Linked DNA regions of Homo sapiens. The protein of the gene in region 1 interacts with the protein of each later gene in a pairwise test. Each region holds a gene or a part of one and is shown on either strand. Other genes may lie near its edges.

What was found.
Region 2: the proteins of ARX (region 1) and NELL2 interact in a two-hybrid assay, tested with the Homo sapiens proteins (one large-scale study listed by BioGRID and IntAct).

What each region holds. Positions count from the first base shown.
Region 1 is NC_000023.11:25,013,166-25,017,313, forward strand, and holds the start of ARX (homeobox protein ARX), read right to left. Parts: upstream 2,801-4,148; 5' UTR 2,573-2,800; coding exon 2,377-2,572; intron 634-2,376; coding exon 1-633. UniProt on the Homo sapiens protein: Transcription factor. Binds to specific sequence motif 5'-TAATTA-3' in regulatory elements of target genes, such as histone demethylase KDM5C. Positively modulates transcription of KDM5C.
Region 2 is NC_000012.12:44,778,816-44,782,315, forward strand, and holds part of NELL2 (protein kinase C-binding protein NELL2 isoform b precursor), read right to left. Parts: intron 1,208-3,500; coding exon 1,034-1,207; intron 945-1,033; coding exon 848-944; intron 1-847. UniProt on the Homo sapiens protein: Plays multiple roles in neural tissues, regulates neuronal proliferation, survival, differentiation, polarization, as well as axon guidance and synaptic functions.

The DNA of each region.
Region 1 (4,148 bases):
CTGCGGCCACGGCGCCAGTGGCGGCCACAGGACAGCGCCGGGGCTCCTTGAGCAGCGCGCGGGCGTCGTCCTCCAGCAGCTCCTCCTCGTCGTCCTCCAGCAGTTCCTCTTCCTCGTCCTCATCTTCTTCGTCCTCCAGCAGCTCCTCCTCGTCGTCCTCGGTGCCGGTGCCACCACCCGCAGCCGGGGCGCTGCCCGGGCCGCCGGCCACGCCGAGGCGCTCCTCCGGGTGCGTGACGCCCCCCGGGCCGCCCAGCTCGTCCAGCGCGGGCGGCGGCGGCACGAAGGGCGCCCCGTTCTCGCGGTACGACTTGCTGCGGCTGATGCTCACCTGCGGCGCCTGGCTGATCTTGAGCGTGTCCCAGGCCGCGGCGGCCGCGGCCGCGGCTGCCGCGGCGGCCCCTGCGCCGTCCGGCCGTTCCCCGGGCCGCGCGGTTGGCGGTGGCGGCGGAGGGGCCTCCCCGCGTGGACCCGCCGTGGCCGTGGCGGCCGCTGCCGCCGCCGCCGCCGCCGCCGCCGCCGCCGCTGCCGCACCCTGAAGGAGGCGGCCCCCGCCCGGGCCGTACAGGCGCCGCAGCTTGGGCGGCAGGTGCAGCTCGGCCTCGAACGGGGCGCTGCTGCTCTTAGGGGAGCCTGCGGGCAAGGGAGAGCTATCAGCCAGCCGGCCGGCCGGGGAGTCCCAGCCAGGGCTGCTGCCGGGGCCCGCCCGCAGTTGCTCCCCCAGTGCCTAGGCCCAGGCGTGCGGGGACCGCGCACCACCAGACTTCGACGCCTTGGCCTCTTTCTCCACTTTTCTTGCTTTTTCTTTTTCTTTCTTTCTCTCCTTCTCCCTTTCTCTGGGTTCCTTCTTTTTTCCCCTTTCCTCTCCCTTCTTTCCGTTCCCTCTCTCACTCTCCCCCTTTTATTTCCTATCTTCCTTCCCTTATCTATTCCTCTTGCCCCTCTCTCCCTTCCTTTTCTCTCCTTACCTTTTTTCTTTTTCTTTCTCCCCCTCCCTTCTTTTCCTCACCTCTCTTTCTCCTTCTCTCCCCCTTTCTTTCTCTTTTTGCAGGCTTTCTCTCCCCTCTCTCCTTCTTTCTTCTTTATTCCTTTCTCTTTCCCCTTTCCTACTCTCTCATTTTTATTTCCCTTCCCACGTCGGGGCAGAGGAAAATCCGAAAACATTCTACAACTTTAAAAGAAAATCACCACTATCCTGAAAACTTTGCGCATGACCTCTGCCCGCTGCTCCACCATGAGGGCAAGGGTTGGCAAGAGGGGTGCAGCCCTGAAGGCGACCGCTGCGGGGCGGGGTGGGGGAAAGCGGCCCTGTGGCCCCAAGTGCAGGCCGCGCCCCAACAGCCCACAGCGGGAGAGGGTGGGGGGGCTTCTTGCACAAAAAGGCAAAGAAAAATCATCCTGGCAAAAATGTTCTGGGAAAGGTCTGGGGCAGAGAGGGAGTGGGAGTGCAGCAGGCGCAGGCCGCTCCTTCCTTTTGAGGAAGCGCCTGGCATAGGTGCCACTGCAGGCTAAAAAAAGAAAAGAAAAAAGTCAGTTTTATTTAAATGCCCCCTTCTCAACCGTCTGCTCCTGCCATCCAAATTGCGCTATGGCCGGACCGCTGGTTTTTGGATTTTAAAAGAAACCAACAGTTCTTTCCTTTCCCTGCGACACCTCTGCAGCAAGCTCGAGGCGAAACTTGAGGATAACAGGTTCGGGGTAAAAGGACATTTGTTCTGGAATTTTTAATTTCAGAAAAAAATAAAATATTTTAAACAGCTCGTCTATTTTAAAAAATAAAATAGCAGAGAAAAAATTAGCATCCAGAAGTCACACATTTCATACATTTTAAATACATTAAGGAGCATTTGGAGAATCCCAGGAAGATGTTTTCTGCAAAGCTTGGGTTTAAAAGGTCACAAGTAATCTGCAATTAAAAAAATAAAACCAAAACATTGCATATACAGAAATCTTCCAAAGAGGAAAGGCCAAGGCTCACTCAGCCTGGAGACCCCGATTCACCAGCTTTTGGGCTTCTTGTCTTCATCAAGTTGGTGCTACAAGGGTCCACCGGCCATCTACTGTTTCTGACCTGTCGCCGCTCTTCAGAGCACACCCAAGGCCACCAAAAGGGGCATTTAAACAACCTAACGATCAACACCGAAAAGCTAAAGGCTCCCTAAGCGAAAACGGGCCTTTTTCTGGAAGCAGGGAGGGAGGGAGGGAGAGACAGCCCTGGCTAGATGTTTAACGCTCTTTGAGGCAGCAGGCCTCAGAGTTATGCCCTCTCCTTCCTTCCTCTCCAAATTGACAATTCCAGGCCACTGGCCCCCGAACACCAAACATCCAAATCAGGGCCCAATGCCCTTAGTAAGTGCCTGACGGGAGCATCCTTACCTTGCACGGCCTTTTCCGGGTCGGCGCGGCTGGTCAGCGGAGCAGGCAAGCTCTGCGCGGCTCCCAGCAACCGCATTTTGCACGGGCTCCTCCGGCCCAGGATGCTGTCGATGCAGTAGGAGGAGAGCAAAGTTGGAGATTTACTTTTGCACTCGGGCCTCTCGGAGCAGCCCTCCTCCTGGTACTGATTGCTCATGGCTGGGGCTTTTTCCCAGGGCGCAGAGAGCGGATCGCCGGCTGCCTCTCCCGGAGGGTGGGATGGATGGGTGTGTGTTGGGGGTGGGGTTAGATAGCGGGTTATAACGGATATTATTGCGATCTTTGTGCCTTTCTGCCTCCCTTGGTTGCCGGCTGCCGGCTCCCGCCCTGCCCGCGGCCCGAGCTCGCCCTCTCCGCGCTCAGGACAAGCGGTAACAAGTGTAGTGAGCAGCGGGCGCTGAGCTCTGGAGTCTCTCTCCTCCACGTGCTGAGAGGCGCCCTCTGATTGGCTCTCGCCAGAGGCCGGGCTGCGTCGGCCTGTGGGCGCGGCGCAAAGCCCGGACTGGATTCCAGAGGGGCAGGCGGGGGTGGGGGCAGCGGGCACGCACCAGAGCCAATTTTCCTTTTCTTTCTTTCTTTTTTTAAGTTACCAATTTTCTAAGTCCGCTATCCTCTTCCTGCAGCTCCTCCTTTGACCCTTTAGTGTTGGCCGAAGTTCTAGCTTATTGGGATGCCAGGCCTGTGAATGCCATCTGGGTGGCGTGCGCCCCTTCCACCAACCCGAGGACCTCGCTCCCTGGAGGCGAGGCCTCGAGGCTCACGTTCAGACTCACTCGGCACTTTTCAAAGCCGATATTGGGCTCCCAGGACACCGCCTTGACCTCCCTGGCGCTCAATTGCCGTCCTCTCTAGGCCGGACGGGCGTCGGGGGGCCAGGGTGACCGCCCCAAGCAAACATCTGCCGTCTGGGAGTTCGCTTTTCTCTTGCGGCCCAAGGCATTGCGCTGTCTATCTTCACCCTGAGCCCGACTGTGTCTCTCTTGTTTGTAGCGTCCCCCAACCGCTCTCCTCTCCGTTTTAAACTCTGGAATGGGAAAAAGCCTCCTTACAGACAAAGCTCTGCCATAGGCGCGCGGCCTTCCCTAGAGCATTTACTGGGTGGGAAGGGACAGGCGAGTATCAGCAGCGAGGAGGGGCGACTGGGGACGAGTCTGGGGGCCTCCTCTTTCTCCCTGGACTCTCTTCCCTCTTTCCCCCACAAATTCGTATCTGTTAGGCCTTCACCCTGAGGCTGTTCACCTTCCAATCGCAGCTAGGGAGCAGAACCCTCAGGGATCCCTGACCTCTCCAGGGTGGAAGGAACCCAAATTCGGCTGCAGCCAAATCTAAGCGTCTAAAATTCTGAATTCTCATGACCTGGCTCCCTTGAGCAAAGGTGAGAGAGTGAACCTTAGAGAGAGCGCCTTTCTTCCCAAACAGTTTCCAGCGCCGAGAACTAAAACCCAACTCCAACTGATGTTGGGTCGAGCCTGGGCCAGCACGGACGCCTTCCCTGCCTGGGTGCAGGTTCCCAGGGATTTCCAGGGGCCCCAACGCTGGCAGAATTGGGGCGAAGGTGGTGGGTGAGAGAGGGGCCAGGGAGGGGGAATCCACGCCGGGTTTTCCTCTCTCAACTCCCTTCAATGTGTCAAAGAGAAAAGCATTTTACAAAGGATTATACTTGAATCACTTACAGTCAGTATTTAAAAATACAAGGATGCATAACTGGGATTTTTTTTTTTCAGCCATAAACA
Region 2 (3,500 bases), on another chromosome or scaffold:
TTCAAGTATCTGGTTTCCTGGTAACAGGCAATGCTTAAATAAGTTCCCAAAACACCTTTATAGAATTATAAACTTTGCTTAGAAAACAATTAAATTCACTGGTATGTGATCTACCTTGAAATCTATGAGTTGAACTATCACTTATCATTGTTTGATTTGGTAATCATTCATCGAGCCACTTCCATGTTGTAGGGACTGTCATAGCCACTGGGGGAAAATGATTGCACTATGGGCTTGTAGTCAAGCAATTCTCTGGACTTTATTTCTTCATCTTTAAAATATGGAAAGTTAAATGACATGTCCCTTAGAGCCTCTCCAATGAAGAAATTCTATGAAGTGTTGTCTCCAAGTACATATTAAAGGAAAAGATATAAATTATAACTGCTTTCTCTTTTGACAGATTTGTGCACATATGTGTATTCCTTTCTCACTTTCTGCAGTACAAGGAGACCATGAATAATATATACTAAAAAGCTTTCAATCCGCTATTAACATCTTTGTAAAAGTATCATCAAAGGTTATATTTCAGTGGTGGAGAGTTTATTTGTATGTTAACATTTTAGATTTTTATTGCTTTGAAAGGTTAATTCAAAGAATGACCTGTTAACTGCCCTGATTGCAGCCTTGTGATCATTTCTGTAATATCTAACAATTAAACTCATTGAAAAAAGAAGAGAAAATAATGTTTGCTGGCTAAAATATTACTGTTTAAAAAAATGAAACAGACACAAATTTTCTAATTTACAAATCAAATTATTTTGTTTCACACCATAAAAAGTAAAATCTACTTTTTGAAACTCATTAGAAAGCATTTACATTTCATTCTCAGACTTTTGCCAAAAGATACCTTAAAATATCCATGCGCATTATTTCTCTGTCCTAGCCAAAATGTTGTGCCTAGAGGCAAGTCTGTGGAGGGCTTTTCTACTACCCTTTCATAAATTCTGCAAAAAAGAAACATCAAAGAAGGAACGTGAGTAGACAGTCATTTCTTAGAATCTTCCATTTCCTAAAATGAGGACACTACACTTACTTATTGCAGTCAATGTGTAAAATCAAATGGGAAGCACTGATGGCTAAGGAGAGCTTGTGCCACTTGTCATCAGCCAAAATGTAAGGAAACACTTCTGTGTGAGGGCGGTGACTGCCTGAGCGGTAATGCAGTCTGACTTCATTCCGATGGCCACTACTTTCCAGTTCCAGGTACCTGCAGAGAGAAGAGCCACATGGGACACATTAAAAATAAAGTTCAAAAACGATTGAAGTGATCTCTGTCTACGGGATGGAATAGATGTACTTTTCCTAGTTCTCCCACTAAGTACAACTAGACATCATATACAAAACAAACACAGAAGAATCTAGAAGATAGAGAAAAAAAGATATTCAGGATCCAAGGAACAATATGGTAGTGAGTTCAATGGGTTTCCATTTTGTGTCATATATCCTGGACTTGGAGCTAAAGAAGGCTTCAATCTGGAAATATCAATGAATGTAGACCTAAAAAATCCTCAAGATGAGCCTGCTTTCTCTAGCTGAAGAACAAAGAAAGGATCAGTCTAGCAAGACAGAAACTGCTAGATAATAATCTCTCTGTTCCAGTCAAACATCACAGAAAAAACTGGCCCCATCCCAAACCATGCCAAACAAAAGCTAAGTAAGAAGCTTATATTTCTACCCTGTTCAAGCAGAAATGAGGCATGTAACACCAGAATAGTGTCAGAGAAGGCCAAGTTTAGAGCCAAGAATTTTAACCCTCCCAGGCAGTAATGAGGCCCCCCACAGCACTAGTGAAGACCATACAATGAGGAGCCTGGACTTCCATCTCATCTTGGAAGTAATGAAGCACACTTCCCTTTCCCCGCTGGGATAGTATCAAAGGAAGCCTACTAAGGAGTCAGGAGTTTTATAGTCATCCAGCAGTAATGAAACCACCCCGCCACAGTGCCAGCAGAAACCATATAGGAAGCTGAAACTTCCCCCAACTCAGAAATAAAAGAAGCTTCCCCCTCAACTGTCAACAAAGGCAAGTGGGGAATCTAGACTTCTACCTCCACCTGGCAGTAACAAGATGGCACCCTCCCTTCCCCTGACAAAGCAGTGTCAGAGAAAGCTGGCTAAAACAGGCGGGTTAAATAAGATTCAAGTCTCAGAACATGATACAAACATGTCCAGGTTTCAGTAAAAAATCATTCATTATACCAAGAAGCAAAGAAATCTCCAACAGATTGTAAAAAGAAAAAGAACAGATATCAAGACTAAAATGATAAGGATGTTAGAATTACCCAACAAATATTTTACAGCAGCACTGACAAAAACAATTATGAAAAGACTTAAATGAAAAAAATAGAAAGTTTCAATAAAGAAAAAGAAAAATGGGAAAAAAAATTTAAAACCAAATAGAAACTTCAGAACCAAAAAAATACAATAATGGAAATGAAAGCTCAGTGGATAAAGCTAAACAGCAGAATGGAAGTGACTGTGAAAAGAATCAGTTATCTGGAAGACAGAAAAAAAAGCATCCAATGTGACAAATAGAAGATAGACTGAAAAAAAAGTTGAACAGTCTTAAAGAGCTGTGAGATTATAACAAAAGATCTAACATTTGTATCACTAGCATCCGAGAAAGAGAGGAGAAAGGAGGCGAGCTTAAAAAACAATATTGAAGAAATAATGGCTGAACACCTCCCAAATTTGGCAAGAGATATAAACTCACAGATTCAAGAATCTAAGGAAACCCTAAACAAGATAAACTCAAAACAATTTTCAACTTCATATCAAGCCATATCATAATTAATCTTCTGAAAACTAAAAACAAAGAAAAAATTTGAAAGTAGACAGAGAAAATCTTGCACATTAAGTACAAGGAAAAATTAGAGTGACAGTGTGTTTCTCAGTAGAAACCATGGGAGCCATAAAGAAGTGGTAAAATATTTTTCATGTGACAAAAGCAAAAAGAGCTGTACACGTAGAATTGTATACCCAGCAAAAACATCCTTCAGGAATGAAGAGAAATCAAGACATTCTCAGATAAAGGAAAACTAAGAGAATTTATCATGAGAAGACCTATTTTAAAAGAACAGCAAAATAATGACCTCTAAACAGAAAGAAAAATATAAAATAAAAAGCTTTGGAACATCAGGAAGGTAGAAAGAACATAGTATGTAAAAAAGAAAAATGGGTAAATACAATAAGCTTTCCTTCTCCTCTTTTCTAAAGTATGTTTGACAACTGAAGCAACAGCTCAAAATTGAAGCAAAAGAGTCTGTGTCCTAAATGTATGTTAAACAATATTTAAAGAATTTATGTTATAAATGAGTGAGGGTAAAGAAACATAAAGACAGCTAAAATTTCTATACATCACTCAAACTGGTAAAATGACTATACGAACAATCAGTTATAAGTTATGTATATATAATGGAATACCTACAGCAACCACTTACAAAGCTATACAAAGAGACACACTCATAAACATACAGATAAAATGAAATTGTAAAACAAGT